3 separate regions of the Homo sapiens genome follow, and all the other regions are linked to region 3. Evidence: fine-mapped expression QTL. A gene starts in region 3. Each other region holds a variant in brackets. All regions are shown on one strand. Distances are from middle to middle.

Evidence for each region. PIP is the estimated chance that this variant, and not a neighbour inherited with it, causes the effect.
Region 1: its variant is fine-mapped to the expression of EPSTI1 in whole blood (TOPMed, PIP above 0.99). The same link has a PIP of 0.9 or more in B cells.
Region 2: its variant is fine-mapped to the expression of EPSTI1 in breast (GTEx, PIP 0.94).

The regions. Positions count from the first base shown.
Region 1 is chr13:42,882,690-42,893,097 of GRCh38, reverse strand. EPSTI1 (epithelial stromal interaction 1) reads left to right here. Exons shown (of 11, transcript NM_033255.5): 11 at 4,596-6,710. The coding sequence ends at 4,604. Among named protein-coding and RNA genes, the nearest start is that of LINC00428, 15 kb to the right of the region's middle. The variant T/A (reference allele first, on the strand shown) is at 4,812.
Region 2 is chr13:42,274,804-42,285,211 of GRCh38, reverse strand. The region is part of intron 1 of AKAP11 (A-kinase anchoring protein 11); the gene reads right to left. Among named protein-coding and RNA genes, the nearest start is that of AKAP11, 7.9 kb to the right of the region's middle. RefSeq lists an enhancer at 659-1,160. The variant C/T (reference allele first, on the strand shown) is at 5,677.
Region 3 is chr13:42,986,699-42,997,106 of GRCh38, reverse strand. EPSTI1 (epithelial stromal interaction 1) reads left to right here and starts at 4,866. Exons shown (of 11, transcript NM_033255.5): 1 at 4,866-5,129. The coding sequence starts at 4,942. RefSeq lists enhancers at 4,233-4,472, 4,733-4,852.

The sequences.
Region 1 (10,408 bases), 100 kb after region 3:
TACAAGGTTTTAGAATCTACCCATCAAAAAGAATGTTCTTTTCATGGTCACTAAAAATGTTCACATTGCAAAATCCAACGATTATTTCTCAATCTTCCTCTTTTGACTGATCGCCATTCTTTGTCATGGTGAATCACTCCCTCTTCTTTGAAACTGTTTCTTTACTTAGCTTCTGTGACACTGTACTCTCTCCTGGGTTTTCATATACCTCAGTGATAACCCGTTTTCATCCCTCTTTGCTGAATTCCTTGCATCTGCCTGTCCTTTCAACAGTGAAGTGCCTCAGGGATCTACCTTGGACCACTTTCTGAACTGATGTTCACTTAATACATTCTTTCTTATGAAATTAGATACTCATTCATTCTTATGAAATTAGATACTATCTATATGTTCATGACTCCCAAGTTTCTATTTCCAGCCCAGACCCCTTCCTCCAAACTCCAGACTTGTGTACCCAGTTGCCTACCCAACACATCTCTACTTATCCAAGATATGTAATAGACATTTCAGCCTTAACATGTCTAAAACCTAACCTTTGATCCCCTTTACCCTAGTGCTCTGTCTGCACATTTTCCTGTTTCCATAACGGTGCAATCCCTCTCTCACACCCACACAGCTAGCCATCAACAAATCCTCTTGACTCTTCCTTCCCAATACATCCAATCCAACAGCTTCTCACCACCCTTATCATCATTATCCTGCTTCCAGCCTCTCTCAGTGCTCATCCAGATGCTTGCAGTAGTCTCCTAGATGGTTTCCTTACTCCCACAATTACTTACCTACAGTCTGTTCTCGATACAAGACTGACAGAAGTCAGATTCTGACTCTGCATACCCCTCCAATGGCTTTCGCCACCCCCAAATCACTTGGAGTAAAAGCCGAAGTCCTTCCAGCAGCTTACCAGGTGCTGCATGATCCAGACTCCTTCTTAGCCCTCTGGCTCTCCTGCTGCTCTCCTTCTTCATTTCTCTCTAGCCACACCAGCTTTCTTGCTGAGAGCACTGGGTGCTCTGTCTACACTATTCTCCAAAATATCCATATGGTTTGTCCTCCTTCATTTACTTTCTTGAATTCCACGGTCTCAGTGAGATTACCTTGGCATCCTAGTTAAAGCTGCTGCCTGTCCTCTCACCCTGGCTCCTGCAGTCCCCTTTCTAGGCTCCCCTCCCTTTTTCTATAGCACTCTTCAACTTCTAACATACTTTTAAAACATAATTTCCTTGTATGTTTTGTTGACTGTTTACTCTTCGCCTCTCCCTGTGGTGATGTATGTTCCACATTCTACAAGGGTGGGGCCATTGGATTGTTGTGTTCAGTGGTGTATCCCAGGCATAAAACAATAACTGGAACTTACCACACACACAAGGAAACAAGTGGTTGTGATTCAACATCACAAACACAATAGAAAGACTTAGAGCCAGATGATTTCACATGCTAAAATGATTAGATACTGAATTTAAAATCACGATGTATAAAACGTTTGATGAAATAAAAATTGGATTTGAAATAATGAGGAAAAAATAGGAGATAATGAAAGACAACCAAGCAGACTTCAAAAAGAATTAAACCAAAATGCCATTTCTTATCAATTATTTGGCAAAAAAAACCCTCCTAAAATATTGACAATATACTCTGTTGGCAAGGCTGTGGGGAAGTGGGTACTTTACACATTATTGGTGGGCATGCAAAATGATACAAACACTATCAACATCTATGTCTTACTGTCTTCCCATTAAACGAAGACCAGGCCTATACATATTAGAGCCAAATTCTATTAAACTTTCAAGGAACAGATTATTTCAAATGTCTAGAAAGTTTTTCTGATTAAAAAGAAGGAAGTATTATCCAAAATGATTAAGCAGGTAAACATGACTTTGAATTAAAATTAGACAAAGACCGTATAGAAAAAAAATAGACTATCACTCATAAACATAGATTCAAAACAATCACAAGATTTTGACAGAATAAATATGAAAAAGCATAACATATCCTGATGAGATAGAATTTGTTCCAGAATTGCAAGCTTGGCTTATTGCAGACAAAACAAAAAACCTACTGAGATAATTCACCTCATAAATTATAAAAGAAACTCCATACGATCATCTCAATTAGTACAGAAAAAGCATTTGCTAAATTACAATACTCACTTGTGGTAAAATCTTCTAGGAAACTAGGAATAGAAGGGAAATTTCTTTGCCTCATAAAGGGATCAAAACTGTATAATAATAATAAAAATACATTAAAAACATTTCCGTTAAGATATAAGGATTGAAAAGGGGGAAAAAAAGCCTTTATAAATCACAGATGATACAATTATTTACGTAGAAAATCCAAAAGAATTTACATTCAAATTATTAGAAGAAAAAAAGGCTTGGCACTGTTAGTAGATATAAGATCAATATGTAAAAACTACATTTCTACACATTAGGAATAAATAAAAAATCTAATAAAAAGATCCAACCAAAAATATGAATGACCCTTTTTAAAAAATTCTAAAATTAGCCGGGAGCGGTAGCTCACGCCTGTAATCCCACCACATTGGGAGGCCGAGGTGGGCGGATCACGAGGTCAGGAGATCGAGACCATCCTGGCTAACAAGATGAAACCCCGTCTCTACTAAAAACACAAAAATATTAGCCGGGCGTGGTGGCGGGCTCCTGTAGTCCCAGCTACTTGGGAGGCTGAGGCGGGAGAATGGCGTGAACCTGGGAGGCGGAGCTTGCGGTGAGCAGGGATTGCGCCACCACAGTCCAGCCTGGGTGACAGAGCGAGACTCTTTCTCAAAAAAAAAAAAAAAAAAAGAAAAGAAAAAAAATTCTTAAATTTTGTAGAAAGATGCTGTGGAATAAATAAATGGAGAGTTATACCTTGTTAATAGATAGGAATGAGCTCTCAAATAAGCTATAGATTCACATAAATTGGAATCAAAGCAAAGAACTGAGAGTAACCAATTCACTCCTAAAGATAAAGAAGTATATATGGGGACTTAATTGTGTATTTAATGCGGTATGCAGTTGGCCCAGCACACCCAACATTTCTGAATTTTTTAGTTTTTTGTATGACAGACGGGGCAGAGCACATCACTGGGGGGAAACAGACTCTGGCAAATGCTGTGGGGACAATTGAGTACTTACATGAAATTAGGTCCCGACATAATTCATAAAAAAATTCTAACTGGATTAAAGCTTATAAGTAGGAAGGAAGACTTTTACATTTTAGAAAATAAAAGAGGCTGTTTATAAAATAGAGCTGAGAAAGGATTTTGTAAGACCCAAGGTATAAACAACAATAACAAAAAAGATAACTATATCTACATTAAATTTTAAAACATCTGTTCATAAAAGAATATCATACAAAAGTAAGAGGAGAGGCCATAAATTAAACTTTTATTTAGGACATGTTCTGCAAATAACAAGTGGACAAAATTAATATATAGAATTAGCAACTTAAATTATATCAATATATTTGAATTACTATTAAATTAAGGATATGTCACCATTTAAAGACTGATAGATGAGGACTGAGCTTCTCCAAAGAATGAAAGAGGAAAGCTATGCCTCAATTCACAGAGGCTTGGAGGAAATATCGGAACCAGTAAAAAGCCAGAGACAGAGTAAACAAGGAGGAAGGCAGAAATTATGATAAAACCAAGCCATGGAAAGAAGCAGTGGTTTCTTGAAATGTCATATAGACACTTAAGCAGTAGGCCCCCAATAAGTGTGTATGTTAGGTGGATTGATTTTTATTTTTTAATCATTGTTAATTTAAATCAGTCTTCTCATATTTCTTAACATATACATTTATTCTTCAATAATTGCTTTTATATGTAAAAAATATATTTTTTTATTTTTCTAGGGTTCTCTATTAGTTTTTTCGAGGCACCTAAGGTGGGTCACTTAAAAACATCCCTTTAAATAATATTTCCTCTGATACAATAGGTGAGGCTCTTTGGGATGCTGTGGAAACTCTAAATCCTATGTCTTCAGGGGCAGTTAAGCATTTCCTATGACCAATGAGGCAACCTGAGATTTTAATTTCTCAAAGTGTTAGAAGAAACAGCAATGGTGTGTATTCCATACGTAGCGTGGCCCAGCACTGCAGAAGGCTTGATGGAGGTTTCTTGACCCTTTGCACATGGTAGGAGTGGAGACTCACCAATCTATCTCCCTACATCAAGGTCCTCTTAGAAGTCACCTTTCTGCTGTATAATACAGCGTAACCCTACTTGAGACATTTCCATTTAAATTGCTCTGTTCCACATGTGTTCATCCTGTCCTTGCTGTAACTGTGTAGGTGGGTGACAACATTTTCGAACTGTATATTTGTCACCTCTGTTAGTCTATCTCTAAGAACACAGCCAATAAGACATCACTTGACAAGCCATTACCTTATTGACCAAGACTATTTTGTGAATCAAATGCAATGTGACTTGAAAATCAAATCGTTTCAATGGTCATTTAAGTTGTTAATTTTAAAAAATGGTCATTTCAGCTTGATGCATAAGAGCGTTCTTTGCAGGAACTTCATTTTTGACTACAAAGGCTTTGAATTTTATTTTGCTGCTTGCAGTAATTTTTGTTTTCTTTTTCTTCCAGGGTATATGAGAAAATATTGACTCCTATCTGGCCTTCATCAACTGACCTCGAAAAGCCTCATGAGATGCTTTTTCTTAATGTGATTTTGTTCAGCCTCACTGTTTTTACCTTAATTTCAACTGCCCACACACTTGACCGTGCAGTCAGGAGTGACTGGCTTCTCCTTGTCCTCATTTATGCATGTTTGGAGGAGCTGATTCCTGAACTCATATTTAA[T/A]CTCTACTGCCAGGGAAATGCTACATTATTTTTCTAATTGGAAGTATAATTAGAGTGATGTTGGTAGGGTAGAAAAAGAGGGAGTCACTTGATGCTTTCAGGTTAATCAGAGCTATGGGTGCTACAGGCTTGTCTTTCTAAGTGACATATTCTTATCTAATTCTCAGATCAGGTTTTGAAAGCTTTGGGGGTCTTTTTAGATTTTAATCCCTACTTTCTTTATGGTACAAATATGTACAAAAGAAAAAGGTCTTATATTCTTTTACACAAATTTATAAATAAATTTTGAACTCCTTCTGTATAAATGGGTCATTTTTATTTTTAATGAAAAGTTATTGGGGTTTTCTCTCTTGAAGGGTCTCATTTTAATTCCCTTTTCCAGGCCGTATAGATCAAATATAGTACTGTCATTACTGTTGGCTCTTGTTTTGGTCTTGACTTACTAATAGTGTTACCCTGATTTTCAGAGGGGGACAGTTTATCTCCAGAAAGGCCAATGTTTGTATACACATCAGCTAGACACAAATATAGACATCATATGTAGTTTGTACATGTTTCAGAAACTTGTTTTTTCTTTGCTCTGTGTAACCTATTTCCTATTGCTAGTTCAGTTGGCTTTCTTATTCACTTCTGTGACCCTGAACCAGTTCTCAGACCCTAGAGTGTAAGAGCATTGATTTTCTACGCTGTGTAATCTAGCTCAATCCCTCTGTCCCCTCCGCCTCACCGTCCCCCAGCCACCACATTGTATAGCAAAAGCATTACATTCAATCCTAGAATAAAGGTAAATACAACAAATCATCTTTGCAGCTGGACAACTAATAATACTTTGCAGCATTAAGAGATCTTCTGTGTTACCAGTCACTCTGTTGAAATGAACTTTCCGAATCTCTTTATTCAGGAAAACATGGGGTTTTGAAATTCTTGGGCCAAGAGACATAACTGAGGGGTTCGCAGAGCTAGGCAAGGGTGCACTAGGAAAGGGCCACATTGGTGGGTGGGGGGTAACAGAGAACAGATGGTGTCAGGAAGTTTCTCTGGAGTAAATAATGTGGATATTCTTGGTTTCCCTCTCCTCCGCCAGCTGAAGCTGTGTTAGTGCTGTTGACACTAATATAAAATGTTTGGTCCATTTGAAATCCTTGTCATTGCCTTATATGGGGGAAACTCAATCCCCCAGCCTGTGTTGGAAATATCACCAAACTGATTGTAAATGTGCGGCTGTAGCAGACATTTTAGTGTGGTGGTGTGCAGCCATTTCGGCCCTACACCTGCCAGCCTGGCTACCTTACAGTTGTGTTCCGATTTTTGCGTCTATGCTTGGTGTGCCTCACTTGCTGCATTTTCCAGCATGCAACCAGGAGTTGACGTAGGAAAAAGGGATGCTTTCTTACTTTGGAAGCTCTCAGGGAAGTTGGTGTCAATTTCTCCTCCACTGCCTGGCCTACCCTGCACTCCCAAAGATTTTGTGCAGATGGGTAGTTCCATTTTTTAAAAATTGTGCAGATATGGAAAATTGTGACTTACTTCATGACCAGAACTATCTAGAATATGTGTGGGGGTATAAACATCTTGCTTAACCAAATATCTATGTAGGCAGAGGTAACCAGGAGAGAAGCAAGACTTGCTGCCTAAAGGAGCCCACCATTTTACTTTTCACATTTAATCTGCCACGTTGAATCAATTGGAATAAAACCTGACTCGCAGGTGACTGGACAGGAAATCCCAAAGTTCCACCATTTCTATGCTTAATTTTAATGTCCCCCCGCTTTTTTTTTTGTAGAAAATAAAAACAAGAAAATCGTTCCAATGTAAGATGTTTGTTATAGAAACTTTAGGCAATACAGGTGTGTAATAAAATGTTTAATAAACTTCTAAACACTTTTGTATTTGGATTTACCACTTTTTCCTTTGTGGTTTCTTCTTGGTATTATGTTGATAGATCCTAAAATCTACAAAGCAACAACCTCTACCCAGTGGCCTATTTTAACAAAACAAAGGATTTCCCCTACTACTGGGCTTAGTTATATTATAGTAGATAGTCAGGCAGACAGGAGCAGGCCAAGAGAGGCCCCCACTACCAGGAATGTCAGGCAACCATCAGGTGATGGTCAGCCAAGTTATTTTTGTTGTTTTTCTTTTTTTTTGAGATGGAGTCTCACTCTGTTGCCCAGGTTGGAGTACAGTGGCATGACCTCGGCTCACTGCAACCTCTGCTACCCGGGTTCAAGAGATTCTCCTGCCTCAAACTCCCAAGTAGCTGGGATTACAGTCTCCCACCCGCCACCACGCCCAGCTAATTGTTGTATTTTTAGTAGAGACGGGGTTTTGCCACGTTGGCCAGGCTGGTCTCAAACTCCTGACCTCAGGTGATCCGCCTGCCTCAGCCTCCCAAAGTGCTGGGATTACAGGCATGAGCCACTGCACCCAGCCGGCCAGCCAGTTGTTAAGCTGACTCTCTAAAGTAATAATTGGTTGCAGCCAGTGCCAGGGAAAGGCAGTCTCCCAATAGATAGAAACACCTGAAACTGGTGATCAGCAGCTTCTGATAAGATCTCAGGATTTGGGCAAGAAAGCTCAAGCATGTACATTAAGGGGCAAAATGGCAGAGTTTAACTGATACATGACCTTACAGGAACATTCGACTGGTAAGGGAAGAACGCCTCAAGTAAGTATATGCACAACTCCAGTAAACACACTGGGCTTGCGGCCCCTCCCAAGTGCTGGCCGGCCACTGCGCATGCAGACAGCCCACCCCAAGGGAATCATTGACTCCAGAAGATTGCCAACATATAAAACCCCAAGTCAAAGGCCAAACCATGCACCCAATCTCCCAAGTTGCTCACTTGGCCTTCTTCCAAGTGTACTTGACTTCCTTTCATTCCTGCTCTAATTTTTTTTTTTTTTTTAACACAGAGTTTCATTCTTGTTGCCCAGGCTGGAGTGCAACGGCACGATCTCGGCTCACTCAACCTCTGCCTCCTGGGTTCCAGTGATTCTCCTGCCTCAGCCTCCCGAGTAGCTGGGATTATAGGCATATGCCACCATGCCCGGCTAATTTTGTATTTTTAGTAGAGACGGGGTTTCTCCATGTTGGTCAGGCTGGTCTTGAATTTCTGACCTCAGGTGATCCGCCCGCCTTGGCCTCCCAAAGTGCTGGGATTACAGGTGTGACCCACCGTGCCAGGCCTCTAATACTTTTTAATAAACTCTCACTCCCGCTCTAAAACTTGTCTCAGTCTCTCTGCCTTATGCCCCTTGGTTGAATTTCTTCTGAGGAGGCAAGAATTGAGGTTGGGGCAACCAGTACAGATTCACTGCTGCTAACAGTTGTAGATAATACAGGTCAGGAGATCTTATTCCATTCACAGGATAGGCCTAAGAACTCACATTTTTTGTATGTTTTTTTGTGTATGTTTTCACACTAGAGACATTTCTTGTGGTCCCTAAATACTTTATGTTCAAAGGAAACATTGCATTTTTTCTTTAGGTCGATTTTTTAAAAATCAAGATAAGAAGCCTACATATTTAATTTGGAGATTCGGTTGTCTTTCAGAAAGTATATTTAGAAAAATTACATTGTAGTTATAGTAAATGTAGACATATTTTAAAGTAAAACCCTTGACATTTATAAAGCCAAAAATTTCAAGTTAAAATTCAAAGTTTTGTGATAACTCTGGCTAAAAACTAATTTTTAAAAACATGTAATCATAAAAACAGTGCCTACAATCTTAATTTTAAATTTCAGGATATTAAGCAGATAGGTTGTAATTAGCTGGACTTGTTTGTCCAGTTATGAGAGGATGTGTTTGGAAGTGTGGCTGCCAGAGGAAGTAAAAGGAATTGTTCTGAAACTATTAGCAAGTAGAAGAAAATAGAAGGTTGTGGGCTCTTTGTTTTTATTAATAACTCAGTGGACTAGCACATCTAGAAACTAGCTCCGTGCTGATGTGCATGAAATAATATCGGAGTGAGGTATAATAAAATTTACATGTGGAGAAAGAATATGCCTCTCCAGTTACCATGAGGATTGCATAGAGAATAAATACATGTTAGGCATTCCTTCAAGGAAGGGGCTCTGATTTGGAATTCCTCCCTCCCTTTAAAAATATTCCCTTGTTTAACAATAGAGTTTAAAAAGCATCACAGAGGATTATCATTTTTTTTCTGCTCACAGAATTACATGCTCAGAAGTGAAGGGTTTATATAAAGGCAAATGGGAGAAGCATTTTCATGACATTTATTGCCATGTTGTGCCATCTGCTGGGACAGAGGCTACAGGGACAGCTGTACTGCAACACACACCTCCCCTAGGAAGCTGATTTATTACAAGCCCTTTGCTTTGCTGCTCAGCTGCAGGGCATGTGCTCTGAACATTCCTTCTCACCGTCCCTGGAGGACACTGACCACAGCTGAGCTGAAGGAATCGTCGTCAGTCATCGGGGGTGACATTTCATTCCCTACAAAACCTTACACCAGTGATTGGCACCAGATTATGAACTGATTAGAAATTTCTGTTTTAGAAACCATAGTTGAGCTAAAATGAGTAGAAATTGTGCTTTAGTATGGAGAGAACAGAAACTGATGGGAGAGGGATATTTGAAATTGGACATTGTGAATTAAGAAAAATCAGAAATCAACATTTAAATATATGTCTATAGTCTGTTTTAAATGTGGCACAATGGAGACACAAAGTTAAGTGGTACAGGTCCTGTCCTCAGGCAATGGAGCAGTCGGAATAGGCAAAGTTATGGTGACCACAATAAGCAGCCCCCACCTCTTCTTGGATTAGCAATAGTTTCTTGCCCATGCTGCACTTTATGCACAGGTCAGCAGAAGCCTCTGCTCACCTTAGTCAAGGACTGAGAAAGGCTCTGTCTGTTCTTATGCTTTCCATACACCAAGAGGAGGACATAGTGGCAGTATTCTGTGCTATCTCCAGGAAATGCTTTCTCCAGGAAATGACACATGCTACTTCTGTTCACATGTTATTAGCCAGAACAAATCATGTGGCTATTCCTAATTTTAAAGGTGTGGGAAAGAAAATCCTACAATTTTCTGCAACGTACAAAGGAGGAAGAGAACAAGAACATTTGTAAATAACCCTGATTATCCCCCCAAGGAACACATTCTACAGTTGAAGAAGACACAGACATATGAAAGCTTAAGATCAAAGACACATACAAATTCAAAACAATATCAAAAACCCAGTTCAATTCAAACTTTAGTAAGGAACTAATATAGGCCAGGCACTATGCTAGGCATGGAGACTACAATATCGTACAAACCAGCCACTAAAGAACTTTAGTATGAGTTAGACACACACACACACACACACACACACACAGAGAGAGAGAGAGAGAGAGAGAGAGAGAGTAGGAAAAATGAGATAGAAGCTATGCAAAGCAATGAGATAAAAAACCTAACACGAATGGCTTTTGGTGCCATATCAAGTAGCTTGAACTTTTAAAAGGTTATAAGCAGGGCATGGACCTGATTAGATTTAGCTTTTTATTTTAAATAAATCATGAGTGAACCCAAGAAAGAGATTTGAGGGAGGAAAGCCCAGAAGCAGAGCAATCTGTTAGGAGGCTGGA
Region 2 (10,408 bases), 710 kb after region 3:
ACAAAAAATGAATTGCTTAGCTGAGGTTTCCAAGACATTTGGTTAACATAAATTTATACTATGAGGAGATTTATACGCAAAAACAAACTTCAATCTAGCCCCCCACCGTCAGAACTTTTAAAAAACTAAATTTTAGTGAAGTTCAAATTGTATATTCTTTTGCTATGCAGATAAGACTATAGCGTGAGTGCACAAACACACACACTTCTTTAGAGATTTCTACATTTTAATTTTTAGACAAAGAAGTATGATTGTATTCTATTCTGAACTAAGATAAGCCCTAGTGGTCTCTATAACAATAAAATCTGATTAATTACTGAAATTGAAGCAGCAGCATGAGAAAGGCTCAGCCTAACACAAGGAGTTCCCAACAGCACAAGGTAAAGGGTGATACCCCAGAATCCAGAAGACGATCATGCGTCTCCCTGTGCTGCCTCTTATTAGCTTTGTTTCCTCTGGGTAAACTGCAATGTCTCTGGAACTTTTTCCTCAATGTATATGATACCGTATTTACCAGAGAAGTTTACTGTGAGACTCAAATGAAAAATAATTTATGGGAGGTACTTTGAAAACTATAAAACACAGGCAAAAGAAGACTTAAATATTTACCTAAGGACCAAAATGATCAAGTGGACCAAAAATTATCAAAACAAAGTTTAAGTATAAAAATGTATAGTGGCCAAAGCAAAAAGATAATCCTTTTATTTGTCCCAGGCCACTTCACTCTCCTTTCTTCTCCACAGTGTTCTCCTCAACTGCCAGAAAGCCTCAGAGGCAAGTGGGCTTTTCTCAAATGTAACATAAAACATAGAAGCCAACATAAGGGTTCCAAGAAACCAGAGACTGTCAAAGAAGGCTCCTAAGTAAAGTGGCACCTGCAGGGCAGTTTTGTAATGCGTGTCAAAACCCTGGAAATACTTCTTTGACTCAGCATTTCTGCTTTTGGGAATGCATCAAAGCAAATAATGATCCTAGAGCATCTAGTTTATTAACAAGGGCTCATAATGCACCAAGTGTTCTGTTTTGCTAAGAGGTTTATGTAAACATCTCATGTTGTCCTTAAGACTACAGAATAGGACCCCGGTTTGACGATGAGAAAAACTGAGGCAAGAGGAAGCTTAGCAATTTGCCCAGGCCCACAGAGTAAATAAATGGCACAGGTGGGATTCAAGTCCAAATTTTCTAACTCCAGCACTGGGGCTCTTCACCACTCCTCTACAGTGCATAAAGGTTTTATAGTCTGGTTCATTACAACTCACAATAGAAATACGAAGCAATCTAGATGCCAGAAACAAGAGAGTAATTAAATGATCTTAGGTTCATTCCCACAATGACGCCATGGCAGCCATTAAAAACAATACTGCAGGACAAAGGAATGGCACGCCTTACATCACTTTCTCTGAGTCTGCTCCTAACCTTGCCTAAAAGGGAAGTAGGGAAAAGAGATAGGAAACAACAATTACCTTTGCAGCTGCTGACTAAAGTCAACTGAGCAAAGATAAACATTAACTCCCAGGAGACTTCACCATCAAATAAATGGGACCAACTATCTAAATGAGCTGCTCACCCTCAGGTGCAACAAGCACCTAAGGTAGAAGAAACAGTTTCAAAGTTGGGCAGGGAGAGGTGGGAGTGCTCTGAAACAACATCCGGGATTTGACAGGGCTGGCTACCCCAGTTCACTTTACCCACAATTTTCCTGAATAGCAGATCCAGATAAAACACCCTTATTCAAGATTGAATAATAAAGCAAATGGAATTCAGTATGGGATCTGCGAAGGAACACTGAAAAACAAACAACATACAATATACATAAAAAGAAAAAATCCAGACAAATATAATCATGCCCCTGAGACTCACATTATCTCAGAATTCAAATCATTGTTTGAAATTAATGAAAGAGAAACAGTTTAATTCTATATTTACACTCTGTTTCACTCATGGAAGAAAAACAACTTACTGCCTTACTCCACCACTTTTTCATTTAAACATAAATAAAATACTGTCTCAGGAAGAAAGAAATCTATTAGAGAATATCTGTGCAACATAAAAGTGAATCCAATATGAGATGATATGACATACTTTTGTAAAGCAAAGAAAAAAATCATCTTTGGAAATGATGCAAAGATTGATGGGGGAAGAAAGGATAACAGCTACTAGAGCAGGATTTCTTTAGCATCTTATATAATTAGAGAGCACATCGTTTTTGACAGATTTCACAAGAAGAACAAAAATACAGTATATTCACCTAAAATACATTTGTATTATGATAAACTTTTCATTTAGTGCTTTACTGCTTTGTGCCCTATTCTGGATGAAGAAACAAGAGTCCTAAGCAAAGAATAACTAAGTGCGTTATCTATAGTCAAAGAAATTAAAGTGAACCTACATGGCTTGGAAAAAAGCAGATGAGAGACAAGAAAGAGGCAGACAAGGCAAACAACTACGAAGTGAACCACTATAGCTCAGGAAACACACAGAAAACTATCACTAAACAAATGAAATCCCCTTAGAAATAACAAAAAAGCAGAACAGACATTGCTAAAAACAATGGAAAACCAAGAAGATTTTAAGAAAAATCACAGAATGCAAAAGTAAACAAATGAAAGCAATTACAGAAACAATTATAAAGAATACAGAGAACAGAGATATAGGGCACTTTAAATAAATACACATATCCTTTAGTCCTGCTATTTCACTTCTTAAAATTTATCCTACATATATACTTGCACAAAATTCACAAAGATATGTGAAAGACTATTCACTGAAATAAAATGAAAAAACTGAAAATAATCTAGAAGTTCATCAATTCAAATAAATTCACATGATTATTACTCAGCTATTGGAAATAATGAGTTAGAGTGATCCATACTGGCGTGAAAGAGCAAGTTGCAGAATGGTGTTAATAGGATGCTCTCACTTGTAATTTAAAAAAAAAAAAAAAAAAAAAAGACTGGCCTAGCACAGTGGCTCCCAGCACTTTGGGAGGCCAAGGCAGGAAGATCACTTGAGGCCAGGAGTTCAAGAACAGCCTGGGCAACATGGCAAAACCCAGACTCTACTAAAAATACAAAAATTAGCTGGGTGTGGTGGTATATGCCTGTAATCCCGGCCACTCGGGAGGCTGAGGCACAAGAATTGCTTGAACCCAAGAGACGGAGGTTGCAGTGAGCCAAGATTGTACCACTGCACTCCAACCTGGGCCACAGAGTCTCAAAAAAAAAAAAAAAAGAAAGAAAAAATTATATACAGACACAACTCTGACACACATATGTAAATATTTGTGCATCCACAGGAAATGACTTGAAGGAGGTACACTAAACTGATGCCAGTGGTCACCCATGCAAGTGGGACTTTTAAATTTTATAAAATGTCATCTATCTACAATATGAGAAGATGGTAGATCATTAAGTAAAATAAGACAGGTTCTGGCATATTAGCATTATCCCATTTTGTGAAAAATCTGTATAACTACATGTGTGTATCTATATATGTAATATAAAAGAAGACATACACTAGATGAGTACAGACATTGGTTTCATCTGGGTAGATACAATCATGGGTGTTTCATTTTGTGTCTATGTATGTTGAGTTTTGTACTTTTCTGAATGAACATAAATTCTTTTATAATTAAAAAATATATATTCTCCAAGTCTTTCCTTATCTCCTCTGACCTAAGAAATGTTCAAGTTGACATCACCTATTACTTGACCTTTTTTGTATCAGGAGAATTAACTATGCCAGTCTGTGAAGCGCCTGTCAACAATATTGCCATATCTTGACTCTCTTCCTACTGCACTAGTTCTCAAACCTCAGTACCTGTACACATCAGCTTATTTCTAACACACACAACTCCCCCACCAGAAGATCCAAATTCAACAGGTCTACATGGAACATAGGAATCTGTACTTTTAACAACTGCCACATGTAATTTCTGGTTGAGAAAAACTTGTCTCTCTGTATGTAAGTTTCCTTTCCTAAATTATTTCATAACTTGTTACTCAAATACTAATATTTCTTAGTCTTCATCCTTATCCTCTTGTCTCATTTTATTTAGTTTTTCAAGGACATTTTATCCTTACCTCTGGTTTTAACTATGCAAATAACTCCCTAATTTATTCTTCAGTTCTGTATATCTAATTTCCTATTAGACACTTCCAACTAAATATCCCAGTTACTCCAAAATTTGTATGTTCAAAAGGTAAATAAAACTTTCTCCCTAAACGATCTCCTCCTGTATTCTCTATCTCAGTAAGAGCCATTAAACCAAACCCAACCAGTAGGCCAAGCTGGAAACTGGTCTTCCCCTCAATTCCTACAGACTACCTCGCCTAGTAAATTGCCAAATCCTGACTTGTCATTCTCCTAAACTTCTCTCAAATCTACCCTCTCTCTTCCACCAGCTGAACTGCTACTTACTATTCACGCACCAGTTCAAAAACTTCCCTCCCTAAAATAGGCTTGGCTCATATCTCTCCTTTATCCCTCCTTGCCCAAATAGTAACCACCTCCTTTGTGCTCTCTAAGTGGTTTATAATTTAATCCTCTGGTGCCACTGTTTGCATACTTCCCTCCTGTTGTAAGTTCCATGAGGACAAAAGTGTTTTATGTATTTTTACATAGTAGGCATTCAAACATCTGCTGAACTAATAAATAAAAAGTAACATATTTAAAGAACAAAGTTCAAAGCATGATGTAGGCTGAAAAATATAAAACAGAATAAAGAGCAAAGTATGCCTTCAAATATTTAAATGAGTATGTCTACATTTAATGAGTTTGTGAAAATACATTTGTGTTTCCAATAATTTCTACTTTATAGTATCTGAGATCACATTTAGAGTAAACACTCCAAATACACATTTTGACCAAATGCCAAATGGCCAAGTGTTAAAAATTAATATTCTGTTGAATATAACTACAAGAAAACAGGACAGAATATATATGAAACATTGGTTTTAAACATCAGACAACAGGGAACACGGGATTGTGATCCCTGAGAGAAGGGAAACACTGGCTGCCAGCTACTTCCAGGTCACAATACAGGGACAGGAAAGCCAAGCAGTCTGGTGGTTTCACTGAGTTTTAAACACAGATCAGTTTGGAGAGACCAAGATGGCTAGAATTTACAGGGTATTAAGCTGGAGGGAGAGCTGAAAGTAAGTGAGAGCCCTAGAGATAAACCATAATATATTCCACCAGAATAGAAAAACCTTGTAATGTATCAGGTAATGATAGACTCCTCAGAAGAAGTAGCAGCCTTAGTAGAAGCAGCCTTAGTAGAGACAATAATTCAGCACTACGTTAAAAACTGTTCTGGACCCACACTAATAAATTCTAAAAGCAAGCCCTGAAACAACCCAACAGATTCCAAGTAACTGTGCACCCCAACTAAATCCAACACACTTCAGTAATATAATAAATCAAGCAAGCAACAGTATAAACTCAATGGCTGGCATACAATAAAAATTACCAAGCATGCAAAGGAAGAGAAAAATATGAACCATAACCAAGAGAAAAAAAGGCAATAAATGAAGACCTAGAAATGACAGTGATGATGGCAGGAACAGAAAAGGATTGTAAAACTATAGTACAAATATGTTCCATATACTCAAGAAGTGAGAGGAAAACATCACCATAAGGAGAGAAGGAGAAGATACAAAAGACACCAAAATTGAA[C/T]TTTTAGAGATGAAAATTAAATATACTGAAACGAAAACCATACTGGATACAATTAACAGATTAAACTAGAGAAGAAAAGCTCAGTGAACTTGTAGACAATGTAATAGAAGCTATCCAAAATGAAACATGGAGAGACAAAACTTAAAAACAAACGTAGAGTGTAAGTGACTTTTTAAGCACCATAAAAGGTGAATAACTGGAGTTCCACGAAGAGACATAGTGAGTAAGCGAGTGAGTGAGTGAGAGAGAGAGAGTGTGTGTGTGTGTGTGTGGGTGTGCACGTGCGTGCACTGGGGAAGTGGGTGCAGAAGAAAAAAAAATTTGAAGACAAAATAGCAGAGAACTTCCCAAATTTGATGAAAACCGTAAACTGACAGTACCAAGGAAGCTCAGCAAACCCTAAGAATAAACATAAAGAAAGCCAAGGCAAATCATAACCAAATGGCTGAAAACCAGTGATAAAGAAAAAATATTAATTGACCAGAAAAAAAGTACACATTATATACAGAGGAACCAAGGACAACAGACTTCACATCTATATGAACCGGAAAACAAGACAATGGAGCACTATCTTCAAAGTACTAAGAAGAAGAAAAAAAAAAAAGCATCAACCCAGATATACTCAATGAAAATGTATTTCAAAAATTAAGGCAAAATAAATTTATTCACATGAATAAGGGCCGTGAAAATTCACCACCAGTTGACCACCACTAGAGTAACTATGGAAAGAAATTCTTCAGGCAAAGTAAAACAATACCAGATGGAAATCTGAATCTTACACGAAGGAATAAAGAACATCTGAAATGGTAAATATGAGGGTAACAGAAGTTATTCTTCATTTTTCAATCCCTTTTAAACAGTTAAAATATAACTGTTTAAAAATAGTAACAATTAATTAGAGGGTTTAAGACAGACATATTGATAAAATGTATGACAAAATAGGATAAAAAATGTGGCAGGGGAGATGGAGACAAAAAAAGACTGTCATAGATTTCTACATTAAACATGAAGTGATGTTATTTGAAGAAAACCTGTAATAAGTTATCTTGTAAACCCTAACACAAACACTAGAAAAATAAAACAGAATAATACCTAATAGGTGAACAGCAGAATAAAAGTGATGTTATCCCCCTTTTTGCAAATAAGGAAGCTAAGTTCCTTTCTTGGGTACAGACCTGTTATTTGACTTACAAAATCTAAAACTACTACAGCTATCAGATACTATTTTGTTTTTCAAAACAACAGTCAATCGTATAAAATGATTTTAGTATGTCTTAATATCTATTAAGATATTTGCTTCTTTATAGTTTCTGCCTTTTTCCTTTTTAATCCTCAACCTCATTCCTGCATTCACAATATATATGTTCTTACCGCTACAGAGTTTCTCAATCTCAGCATTACTAACATTTTGGGTCAGATAAGTCTTTGTTGTAGGAGGCTGTGTATGCATGGTAGGACACTTAGCAGCTTCCTTGGCCTCTACCCACTAGATGCCAGTAGCACTCAGTTGCAGTAACCAAAACTGTCTCCAAATATTACCAAACATTTCCTTGGGGAGCAAAATCACCACTTACCCTATTTTAGCACTTTAGACTACAGTGCCTTATGTAACAGTTAAATGTCTACATGTCTATGCCCTGCACTGGACTGTAAGTACTACCAACGTTCAACACATACATTCACCAAGCGTCTAAGTAACAGTGATTGGGATACAACAGTGAATTTCATTCCATCGCCATGCCTTACTCATCTCTGCATTCCCCAAAGGCCTTACTCATAATAAGCAACTATAGATTTACTGAAGTGAACGAGCTGTACGGTGAAGAGAAATTTCATCAATGACGTGAATGCAGACAGGCATTTGGTGGCAAAAGCAACATCACCAAATAGAAAATAGGGCCACTTACCTAATGACTTTTTACAAAATTAATCCAAGAATATTTGTTCTGTCACTTTTGTTTTCCCAAACAGTCACAGAGAAAAATTATTGATTTTTCAACTGCATTCCAGATTGAGATCTACTTATAAGGTATGTTTGAGCCCAACTAGCCACTGGTATTGAAAGGAATAACATGGGTCTAGTTGACAAAGTACTAAGTGTGAATGGCTACTGACTTCAAAACTACTTATTCAGCAACAATAAACACAACTTTTAAACATGCAACGGTCCATTGTTAGAAGTTAATTAGAATAATCAGATGAAGGCAGGAGGATAAAACAGTTAACATTTTCATAATAAAAAACTCATTAGACCTACATTTGAATACAGTTTTAAGAAATCACTGTAAAGGATATATGCCCTCAAATGATTATCTTAGTTTCACTATTGAGTGTGCATCTGTAATATATTTGACTTTCAAAAATATTTTCAACAACTGATTTATAATAAAACTTTGTATATGTGTATGGCAATATTATAAGGATGATATGCTATAATTAAAATGCTATGTAATTGAATACCTACAAAAAAATGCAACAACAAAAAACTAAAATCTTGAGATTGTGCTTTCAACATGAATATGCTCCCTAGAAAATGGAGTAACATTCTTAATCTTGTACGTAGCCCTATCCACAAGACTATTTCTAACAGAAAATATGTTCAGAATTTTAACCCAGGAACACATTTCTTTTTATCAGTGACATCTATGACGCCATGACTCTAAGAGTATATTGCTGAAAAGGCATTTAAGTAGCTCTTACAGATATAAGGATCTATCCTAAGCTGCCAGTAGCCGAAATAAGTCAACAGATCTACTTTGCAGATGGGCCAGTCATAGGAAGCACCCAAAAGCCCACACAGAACCTATTAACTAACAGGGTATATTACAGCATAAAAAAAGAAGAATGTGAAAAATAACTTTAAGGTTTTAAGCCTGGGATGCTGAAAGAAAATTTTTTTCTTTGCAAATCAGAAGGTAAATCAGAAGGCTTTGCAAATTAGAAGGTAACTGGAAGACAGTATTTTATATCAACATAGGAATATCCAAGAGGCTAGGTACAGTGGGCGCATACCTGTAATCCCAGCACATTGGGAGGCCAAGGCAGGTGGACGGCTTGAGCCCAGGAGTTTGAGACCAGCCTGGCCAACACGGTGAAACCCCACCTCTAAAAAAATATAAAAATTAGCTAGGCGTGGTAGCACACACCTGTGGTTCCAGCTACTCGGGAAGCTGAGAAGGGAGAATCGCTTGAGCCCTGGGAGGAGGAGGTTGCAGTGAGCCAAGATTGCGCCACTGCACCCTAGCCTGGGTGACAGAGCAAGACCATGTCTCAAAACATATAAATTATATAAATAATAATACCCAAAAAAAGAACTAAAAATTAAGAGATTTACTTGGGGTCAGAGATGGAGATGTTACTCTAAGAATAATCCACATATAGAGAACCTGAAAGCTGGTCTCAGCGACTGGGAAAGAACAGAAATTCAAGAGAGCATCTATGAAGACAACCATGATAAAGGGTTCCAGGACCGGCATAAAAGGAACCACAAATAAATGGCAGTCAGAAAGGTAGGTGAGGTAGAGATTTAGAAGAATTTAGTGTCACTGAAGTCAAGAAATGGTTTTAAGCATGAGTGGTCAGCACTGGACTTCTAGACTTCTTGAGGGCAGAAATTCCTTCCTCTCTGAACACGACCAGAAGCCTGTATCACAGTACCTGCCACACGGTATGCTCTCAACAAATACTAATACCGTACCCTTGCATTGTGCCTGCCATATGCCAGACACTGTTTAATTGCTTTACATACATGAATTCATAATTCTCACCACAGAAGGTGCTATTATGCCCATTCTACGCATAGGAAAACTGAGTCATCAAGCATTTCAGTAATTTGCCTGAACTCCCACACCCAGGAGAATCTGTCCTGTAAAGAGACTACTGGTTAGATCTGGTTAGAACATTACCAAGCTGAGAGCAAGTTCAATGCAATGCCAGAGGAAGAACTCAAATTGCAGGATGTTAAAGCACACCTGAGGTATCCATCACTTCCTCCCTGTCCACTCTCCTTTTGTTAAATATGTTGGCATGGCCAGTTTAAAAGGAGCAGCCCTGCAAACTGTGAGACAAATCTAAGTCTCTTCCTCATCCATTTTTCCCATTCCTATCTTTCCTCACTCTCCAGCCAACTGTGCTAGAAGCAGAAACCTGACCAATTGGATTCTCTCTCTAGAAACATAACTGAGACTTGGAGATGTTTGCTGAGAACCATGTTGCATAGTCAGTGAGTCTGATGTTGGCATCATGGCAAACCAAAGTCTCATGCAAATCAAAGTTTTGGGGAAGTGGAAACCAAGAGCTTTAAAGAGAAGGCCAATCTGAAAGAAACTGGAACAGACCTGCGTGAGTAGCAGAGACATAAGACCATGTGCTTCCAGAGAAAAACTGGAAGAGTAACTGCCTGAAGACTTTCTGGTTCCCAAAACGCTGAATTGGAATCATGCAATGGACTTCAGCAGCACTGTATGACAAATGCTTTTTTTTTAAGTAGGCTAATTAAATTGGCTTTTTCTTCCTTGCAATCAAAGAATCCTCAAACCATTACGGGAGGTAAAAATAAAAACACTGAGTAAGCAGCTACTATGTGCTTCGCACTAACTTTTTGAGGTGGGTATGAAGAAAATGAGGCTCATTTAATTAATAGACCTGACTCCCAAACCGAAACTCTTTACAATATACCTCATTTTCAGTCAAGTAACATCCTCTCTGTTCCAGGCCTCTACCCCATTTATTT
Region 3 (10,408 bases):
GACAGGTTCAGAAACTTTGGCATAGTCATTTTGATTTTAGAAAGTAATGCACAGCTGCTCATTGGGATAATTATAATAAGTAAAAAACATGCCGAATTCTGAATTTTGTCAAAAGAGACATTTTGTCACAATCATCTTCCAAAATATGAAAAGCTACACTTGGGGCTCGGACAACTTAAATTTATGTTCCAGCTATGCCACTAGTTTGTGCGCAGTGCTGGTGAGTCATTTGGCTTCTCTAAGCCTCTGTCTCCTTGTTTAGAATAAAGTGGTTAGATGCTCTTAAATATGAAGGTGGAATAACAAGATTCTGTCTGCTTACCACTGTAGCTCCATGGTATGATGCAAAGAATGATACATGCTTGTCATTCAAAAAATATTTCCTGTACGAACTTATGGTGACTCATAATTGTACCATTTCACAATTCTATGGTAGGATTTGAAGAATTTCACATGGAGTTGTCACAATACAGGTATGCTCAAACACATACATACACACACACACTAAAAATGAGGAGATACCAAATATTCAGAGTTTTACATAACTCCTTTGTTAGAAGAGAAAAAAAAAACCTTTAGATAACTGCTGTCCTAAATCTCTTAGATTAATCTAACTTTCCACTGAAGAATCAAATTTAAGGAAATGTGACTTTTTAGAATTTTCAAAAACTAAGATTTTTTTCATTTACACATTTTATGACAAGAAAAGTCTTAGAGTTTATGTATCTCTCTCTATATTTGTACATATTAATGCAGGAGTAATCTAAGGCAATTAATTTAAAAATCAGACATATATTCCCATTTATTTTCTTGAAAGAAGACACACTTAGACATGTTTGCAGTAAAATAAATTGGTAAAGTTTCTTTTTGATTTAATCTTCTCTCTTAAAGCTCATAGGGCTGGCTAAAATTGCTCATTGTATTTCTGAATTTCCATTCCCCAACAATGCCTCATTTTATGTTTTTCTTTACACAACTTTTGGAATCCTTTTTCTTTTCACTCAGTTCTCCTCTTCCCCAGCCAAAATGTCTTTTGCTCAGATTAAACTCATTTACCAAAAGGAACGAATACATGATTATTTCCCAGAGGCAGTTTCATTTGAAAAGAAAAACATTTCCTAAATGAATCTCTAATTGGCCAAATTTCAGGTAAGGTAACAATCCCACTAGATTTCACTTCTTTCTCATGTCTCTTAAAACATATTCCTAGGTAATTGTCTAGTATGGTGGTTTTTCAAACTTTTAAAAGCCATTGAATTCTTGCCTCAAACAAAATTAGGCAGTGGCCTAGTGAGTAGAAGAGATAAGGGGCTAAAGTACTTGGCTAAATAGGGATAGGGGCCCAGGACCCTCCCCACTCACCTCTGCTTCTCTCCACCAGCCACTACTATAGAAAAACGCACCCAAGAACAACTCCAGTAAAAGGCCAGCCCTTATTTTCGCCCAAATGCACACACCTACGGTGAAAGAATGGATGATACACAAGTAGCCCATTCTCGGGCATCCAAAAGGAGCCTGTAGATGTCTGTTGCCATAATAAATCACATTCACTTTTTTTTGTTGTTGTTGTTGAGACGGAGTCTCGCTCTGTCACCCAGGCCGGAGTGCAGTGGCATGATTTCGGCTCACTGCAAGCTCCGCCTCCCGGGTTCACGCCATTCTCCTGCCTCAGCCTTCGGAATAGCTGGAACTACAGGCGCCCACCACCACGCCCGGCTAATTTTTTGTATTTTTAGTAGAGACAGGGTTTCACCGTATTAGCCAGGATGGTCTCGATCTCCTGACCTCGTGATCCGCCTGCCTCGGCCTCCCAAAGTGCTGGGATTACAGGTGTGAGCCACCGCATCCAGCCTCACATTCACATTTTTTAAAACACTTTGAGAATGTGGCAAAACAAGAAGTGAATGGAGTGAGAAATCTCAGGTAAAACAAGAAGTGAATGGAGTGAGAAATCTCAGGTTTGAAACTTTGGTGTGACATGTGGTTGTGTTGTGAAACAAATATGGTTAACTAAGTATATTCTTGAGGCCAACATCCCTATTACTAGCTCCTTTAGGAGAATCAGTTTTCCCCCAGTGTGGGTTTTCCCTTCCTCAAACTTTAAATTTCATCCAACCACCAAAATAATTTTCTCCTTTGAAACAAGAGTTCCAGGGGTATTTTCCTAGTAAAGAACAATGTGGAAGATGGCCTCCAGAAAGGCCCTGCTGTTCCTCTTTTTTGTTGATCTCTAGGTCTGCGTTTCTCACCCCGCTGGTACCTTACACCCAACAGCACCTAAACAGACTTTTAGAACTTCCCTCAAAGCTTGTCCCTCCTCTAGGTTAATGGTTCTACCTCGTATCCAGTCACAAAGCTAAAAGTCACCATAAAGACAGCAACCATTAAATTACTGGGGCTATAAGGTAGGCATACTGTGAAGATCAGGATTTTTCAACTTCAACACTGTTGACACGTGGGGCAGGACAACTCTTTGTCATGTGGGCCTATTCTGTGCATTGTAGGATGTTTAGGAGCATCCCCGGCCTTTACACACTAGATGCTAGCAGCACCTACCCACTTTGAGGCTTCACAATCAAAAATATGTCCAGGCATTGCCAGATGTCTGCTAGAGGAAAAATCAACTCCATTTGAGAACCACTGATGTGGATGATCTCTATTCCTCACAATACCCACATGAGGCAGAGGAGGAAACTGGATCTCTGAGGAATTAAGAGATTTGGCCTTGGTTGTGTGGCCAGTATGTGGCAAAGCTGGTCTCAAAGCACTATAAAAGCCATCTCCCCTTCTCTCTGCTGCCTTCCAGTACTCAATTCTCTCTTTCATCTAGTTTTTATCTATGCTAATCTCTCATGTGAAATGTCTTTTATGTTTTATTTATTTGTTTTGTAGAGATGAGGTCTTACCATGCTGCCCAGGCTGGCCTTAAACTCCTGGCCTCAGGTGATCCTCCTGCCTCAGCCTCCAAAAGTGCTGGGATTACAGGCATGAGCAACTGAGCCTGGCCCATGTGAAATGTCTTGATTTTGCTCCCCACTTTCTGGGTTGCCTTAGCTCAGATCTGTATTTCTTACCTAGACGTAACTAGGCTCTGAATTTATCTTCCCGATTTCAGTCTCTTCATCTTTCAATCTCCGTTTTCACATTGTTAGAAGCTAACTTTGTAAAACAGATATTATTGAGTAACTGCCCTATTGAAAAACTTCCTGTGCCTTCCACATTGCCTACAACAGTGGTTCCCAAAGGGTGATCCTGAGACTGGCATCATTGGTATCACCTGGAAATTTGTTAGAAATGCAAATCCTTGGGCCCCATCCCAGACCTGAATCAGAAACTATATATATATATTTTTGAGATGGAGTCTCTCTCTGTCGCCCAGGTGGAGGTGGGGTTTCGCCACGTTGGCTAGGCTGGTCTTCAACTCCTGATCTCCAGGTAATCCTCCTGCCTCGGCCTCCAAAAGTACTGGAATTACAGGAGTGAGCCACCGTGCCTGGCCATAAATCTGTTTTAACGCACCCTCCTCCAAGTGGTTCTGATGCTTACTGAAATTTGTGAAACTCTGGCCTACTCTACAAAACCCTAATGTCTTAGGATGGCATAGAAATCCTGACTGACTTTCCTACCATGTTCCTTGTCATTATTTTCTCCTCTCCTGTCCCACCCTGGCCCACCCTTCAATTTCATTCTTTCATTAGCTATCAAACCTGTATGTGTCTTTTTGTTCTAAGCACCAATAATATAAGGAAGACAGTCCAGCTCCTAACTGTCTTGCTGACCTAGGACTGGGGTGCTCCAGCCACATGACAACCCCTGGAATTAAGTACACACCATGTCATTTTAAGTGACAAGCCTCTGCCATAGCATCTCCTTCTTCTTGGTGAATTCCTATGTCTTTGGTGGCTCATTCTCAAATGTCCCTGTTCCTGAATTACTCAGAGGGCTAATCCCCAGTTTCTCTGTGCCTCCACAGCTGCCTGTCATTTCATTTATCCCAAAGTGGCATTCCCATTTGTTTACCTGTCTACTAGGATACTCCTAGAATGCAGGTAGCATGAGGGAAGAGCCTTCACTCATCTTTGTGTAGACGGCATTGTGACCCTGGTGACCAACCCTGGCACACATCAGAATCATCTGGGAGCTTTTCAAAAATATGAATGCCAGAGCTCACCCCTGAACCTACAGGAACTGAGCCTTACACATCCATATTTTAAAATGTCCCCACATCACCGTTGCACACTGTTCTGCACAGAGCAGGTATTTTTAATAGTTCTCGAATGTCTAGTCAATTACTTAGCAAGGCTGCCTGGAGAATCATGTCTACCTTAGCTTACTTCTCCGGCTTTGTAGGTTTTTGTTTTCTTTTGATTTCAGTTTCCATTTCCTCTAACTTGAAAGTATGTGCATTGGTAACAGCCACACAGCAGTCATTACTGATAAAAGGCGACATTTTGTTGAGATGATTTTAGTTATTGACCTAATCTCTGGTATTTTAAGGTTAATATATTTTTTACAGTCTCAAATATCCAGCGGTAACCTCAAATTAGAGTTGCCTGTTAAACAGTTTCTCAAGTATCTTTCAGGATTGTAGTCACTCTGCGGGCTAATCGCTCACCAGGTGTCCGTGGCTGATCCCAGTTATTCTGATTAACCTCTAAGGTGATTGTGAGACTTTAAACCGTCTCACCTGTAGCCGACCAAGCCAGCTCAAGTCAACATCCTGGGCTGTTAACCCGCGATAAGGTCGGACGGGGCCTCAGTGGAGAATACGTGGGGAAGTTCTCTGGGGCGGGCGCAGTCTGCTGCTGATTCTGAGAAACCGAAACTCAGCTGTTAAAACCGCTGCCTCTGCACTTTGGAATCCCATCTTGAGACTCGCTAAGCGTCCCAGCCGCATCCCTCCCGCAGCGACGGCGGCCCGGGACCCGCGGGCTGTGAACCATGAACACCCGCAATAGAGTGGTGAACTCCGGGCTCGGCGCCTCCCCTGCCTCCCGCCCGACCCGGGATCCCCAGGACCCTTCTGGGCGGCAAGGGGAGCTGAGCCCCGTGGAAGACCAGAGAGAGGGTTTGGAGGCAGCCCCTAAGGGCCCTTCGCGGGAGAGCGTCGTGCACGCGGGCCAGAGGCGGTGAGTATTTTAACAACCTGGCTTCGGGGCGGGAGCCCGGGCCCCAAACATACTCACTCACAAGCACCTTGGTCCTTGGAGTTTAAAACCACAGGGGCCCAACAACAGGGATTTTGACTGAATGAAAGCTCATTTGCTTAAATGAAAGTATCCATGCCGCACCTTATAAATTGAGTCGGCTAGTTTGCAGTCCTTTGGTAAATAACCAGCCCGGTTCCTTCCAGGAATACTACTTTCCTGATTTTTGTGACTGGCTACAGGATTGAAAGATATGGGTGTGTCGGAACTGCCTAGGCATCCAGTAAGATGTCATTTTCCAGGTATCTCCAGAACTCATACTCCAACCAGTATGGAAATAACTTTTCCCTTACTGTTTTTAAAAATTTGGTGCTGGGCCAGGCGCGTTGGCTCAAGCCTGTTATCCCAGCACTTTGGGAGGCCAAGGCAGGCAGATCACCTGAGGTCAGGAGTTCGAAACCAGCCTGGCCAACATGGTGAAACCCAGTCTTTACTAAAAATAAAAAATAAGCTGGGTGTGATGGCACGTGCCTGTAGTCCCAGCTACCTGGGAGGCTGAGGTAGGAGAATCGCTTGAACCCGGGAGGCGGAGGTTGCAGTGAGCGGAAATTGCGCCATTGCACTCCAGCCTGGGCAACAGAGCGAGACTGTCTCAAAACAAAACAAAACAGAAAAACAAAACTTGGTGTCCTAAACGGAATTACTGTATCAGACACTAACAGGTAAGGGTCAACAAGAAATGTGATATGGGGTAGAAGGTTCAAATTCTGCCTCTAGGTAGGAGCAAGCCTACGTCCCAGCAAGACTCGCAGATAAACTAGCCTCTTACAACCAGAGGAGTGGAGCTGAGAGAGTGAGGAGGTGAGTGACCATAGTACCTCTCATCCCTGATGTTGATATGTGCTCTATGCAGGAACAGATAGGTAGCTTTTATTCCTGGTCTTTGGTTCAGGGACTGCAGTGAGTATCCGGGAAACATTTATTAAGCAAGTGTCATGAGCCTCTCTTTCTAGCCAATGGAATGAACTTTAACTCAACAGTATGGTTTATCACAACATCACTGCCTTTGAAGTGCTGCCTCTGTGAATTGGAACTGTCCAGATGGTTTTATTTTTAGTCTCTCCTTTTTCATCGACTTCTAGTCTCTGAAAGACAAACCCTGGTTGCTAAGAAACAGTATATAACCTTATGGCCGATAAACAGTAGATTTTCTTTCATCCCTTAGCTTTTGGAAAGTACCAGGCCTTTAATATTATTATTTAGCTTAGGTTTACCCTTAGATGGGGTGGATAATCTGGAAATCAATTAGAGATTGTTGCATTTCTTTCCTCCTCAGAATAATTAGTGTCTCGCCACAGTAGAAGCAGCCAATTACTTTCAAGTAACCCACGTATCTACAAGCTATAGTACTTAACAGTAACAAAGGTCACAGACATATGGTCTCGTGTCCATGAATAGTTAACGATGAACATGATTTGCATGACTTTTTTCTGTTAAAAAGCATTTATTTAGATACAACCATTTATTTCTAAGCTCATATCATCGCATAAGTATTAACTGTTGCATCTGTTTTCTTATTTGGTTGTAATTACCCTGGAATCTTGCCAGATCAAATTGCTCAGAAAGAGGCAGCTTTCTGATGGGTTATCCAGGCCTTAATACCCTGAAGAGCTCACTGTACACTATTTTGCGATTCCTGAAAAGATTTTCAAATGAACCATTAAAAAAATACCAGGAAGTGTTTAGTTATCTCTCACAGAGTCTTCCTTTTTTTTTTTTTTTTTCCTCATGTGAACCAGTTGCAGTAAGTACAGAATTATATATTCCCTTTTAGGGGTTTGATGTCTGAGATCCTGTTGGGATGACTTTGAATTTTTGTTGCATCTCCATTAGTTACTTAGATTCACTTTCTCACTTGTTTCCTTTAATGAAGTTGGAAAACCAAGGAAAATGAATGGCAAATATCTCAGTAGAATTAGCTGCCTACCCGCTGCCCCAAAATAAAGAAGGCTTTATTTATTTTGGGGATAAAAATTAGAAACACTTTCTGATTTAAAAAAATGAAGAGGCCGGGCATGGTGTCTCACGCCTGTAATCCCAGCACTTTGGGAGGCCGAGGAGGGCGGATCACGAGGTCAGGAGATGGAGACCATCCTGGCTAACACAGTGAAACCCCGTCTCTACTAAAAATACAAAAAATTAGCTGGGCATGGTGGCAGGCGCCTGTAGTCCCAGCTACTTGGGAGGCTGAGGCAGGAGAATGGCGTGAACCCGGGAGGCAGAGCTTGCAGTGAGCCGAGATCGCGCCACTACACTCCAGCCTGGGCGACAGAGTGAGACTCTGTCTCAAAAACAAAACAAAACAAAACAAAAAGCAAAAAAAAAAAAAAAAGAAAAAAGAGGATAAAGTGCTTTAATAGTACAGTTTCATTTGTCCACTCATAATGTGAATTTATTTATATGGTAAAAGATTTGTCTTGTTTTGTGGGAATCCTTCCATTAATTTCCTCCTGCAGCCCCAGTGTGGGGATTAGGAATATGGGCTCTGATGCTGGGTAGACCTGGGTTCAAGTTCTGATTATGCCATCACTTGCTCTTTGAACAAAATCCTTAGCTACTTTATGCCTCAGTTTCCTCATTACTTAATATAAGACAATACCAACTTCATAGGGTTTTAATTTTTCCACGTGTATATGTGTAAAACATAACTTTATTCCTGGTAAAGTACTATGCTGTCACCCTTAAGTCGAATGTTTGTGCCTTGTTAAAAAAAAACACTGGTTTAAAACACCTACTTGTGGTCGGGCGCAGGGGCTTGTGCCTGTAACCTCAGCACTTTGGAAAGCCAATGTGGGAGGATTGCTTTAGTCCAGGAGTAACATAGGGAGTCCCTTGTCTCTCCAAAAAAAAAAAAAAAAAAAAAAAAATTTAAATTATCTGGGCACGGTGGCACATACCTCTGTCCCAGCTACTCAAGAGGCTGAGGCAGGAGGATAGCTTGAGCTCAGGAGCTCCAAGACTACAGTGAGCTGTGATTGTACCACTGTACTCCAGCCTGGGCAACAGAGTGAGACCCTGTCTCAAATAAATAAATAAATAAATAAATAAACCACCTATTTGCATAGAAAGAAAGTATACTAGTAAAAATCTGTGGCTATCAATATATTAAATTATTCTGAGTACCTCTGATAGACTCTCAGACAAGATTGAGTTCTTTTTTTTTTTTTTTGAGACAGAGTCTCGCTCTGTCGCTCAGGCTGGAGTGCAACAGCGCAATCTCAGCTCACCACAACCTCTGCCTCCCGTGTTCAAGCGACTCCTCTGCCTCAGCCTCCTGAGCAGCTGGTACCACAGGCACATGCCACCATGCCTGGCTAATTTTCGTATTTTTAGTAGAGACGGGGTTTCGCCACATTGGCCAGGCCGGTCTCAAACTCCTGACCTTGTGATCTGCCTGCCTCGGCCTCCCAAAGTGCTGGGATTACAGGCGTGAGCCACCGCGCCTGGCCAAGATTGAGTTCTTGATGGAATTTGGATTTAAGTTATTATAAGTATTTACTAATTCATACTGGCTTTCCCAATTATTTTTACTTGGTGATTTTTGTCTTGTCCTTAAATATCAAAGCTGTCTACACAAATTAAAAGAGAAAAAAGCTTACACAAACTTCTAATCCAAAGTAAACCTTTATCCTTCCTTTTAATATTCTGCTTGTTTGTAAATATTTTACATTATTTATATCACCTCTAGATAAATATAAGACAAAGACATGCATTTACCTAGTTTTATCCAATTCTGGGAAATGGGGTCTTGCCTGTGCTGGTAATATAGGGTTGAATTCACATTCATGTACTTGTCTAACCATACCTGGTCCTTTAGCTTGATGCTGTTTGAAGAAAATAAAAATATATTTTGAAAATGAACCTATAATATGGAATTTTATTTTACAGTTAACTTGAGCTGAATTTGTATGTAAATTATGTTAATCTTAACATTTTTGTGGCCTACTTCGTATTAGTATTGTAGAGACTTCAACATGAGCAATAATAATAATAGCACTTACGTAGTAGCTAGTATGTAAATGCACACTATGTATACTAACTCTTTCAATCCTCATAACCACCATGGAATGAGAGGATCTCTAGCTTAAAAGAACTAATTAAAAACTAGGAACAAATAACTATTCAACACAAAATAAGCCCTTATGAAGCTTACTGTCTAATTGATGGGACAGACATTTATTAATATGTGAACAAATATGTATACTTTAAAGCAGGGGTATCCAATCTTTTGGCTTCCTGGGGCCACATGGGAAGAAGAATCGTCTTGGCCCCACACAAAATACACTAACACTAATCATAGTGGATGAGCTTAAAAAAAAAATCGCAAAAAAACCTCAATGTTTTAAGAAAGTTTATGAATTTGTGTTGGGCCACATTCAAAGCCATCCTGAGCCACCTGGGCTACATGCACCTTGTGGGCCCTGGGCTGGACAAGCTTGCAAGGAAAGCTGGGGTCTCAGCTGGTCTTGGGAGCAGGAAGATCTTTCCTTAGAGGTGACGTTTGAGCTTTGGTCTACAGGATCATTAGGAGTTGTGTGGTTTTTTTTTTCCTGACATCAAATATGTCATTCTAACACCAACTAACTGTGACCCCAACTAGGTGTCCCACAGTTCAATTCTAACACTAACTACTCAGAGTTAGTGTGGACCCCACAAATTAAGGGCTCAGTCCCACAAAACTGCCCCCCACTTCAGACTTCAGACACTAGCTGCAAATGGAGTCTCCAGGCTACCTGTATGTCTACCCACCAGACTACAAAGTTGGGGGTTCCCATGCATCTCCCCTTCCCCAGTTTTGATAATTCATTAGAGTGACTCACAAAACTCGCAGAAATTACTATATTTATGATTACAGGTTTATCATAAAGGATACAACTCAGTCAAGTGGAAGAGATGCGTAAGGCATCTTTTGGGAGATGAAGGGGTAGGTGGTGGGGTGTGAAGAGTTTCCATACTCTAGGTAGATACTTTGATGTGTTCGCCAACCTGGAAGACCCCCAAACCTTATAGTTCAAGAACTTTTATTGAGGCTTTATTACCTAGGCATAATTGATTAAATCAGTGGCCATTGGTGATTAAATCTCCAGCCCCCGCCTCTCCCCAGAAACTGAGATGGGGCTGCAAGTTGTTTTTTTTTTTTTTTTTTTTTTTTTTTGAGATGGAATCTTGCTGTGTCACCCAGGCTGTAGTGCAGTGGCGTG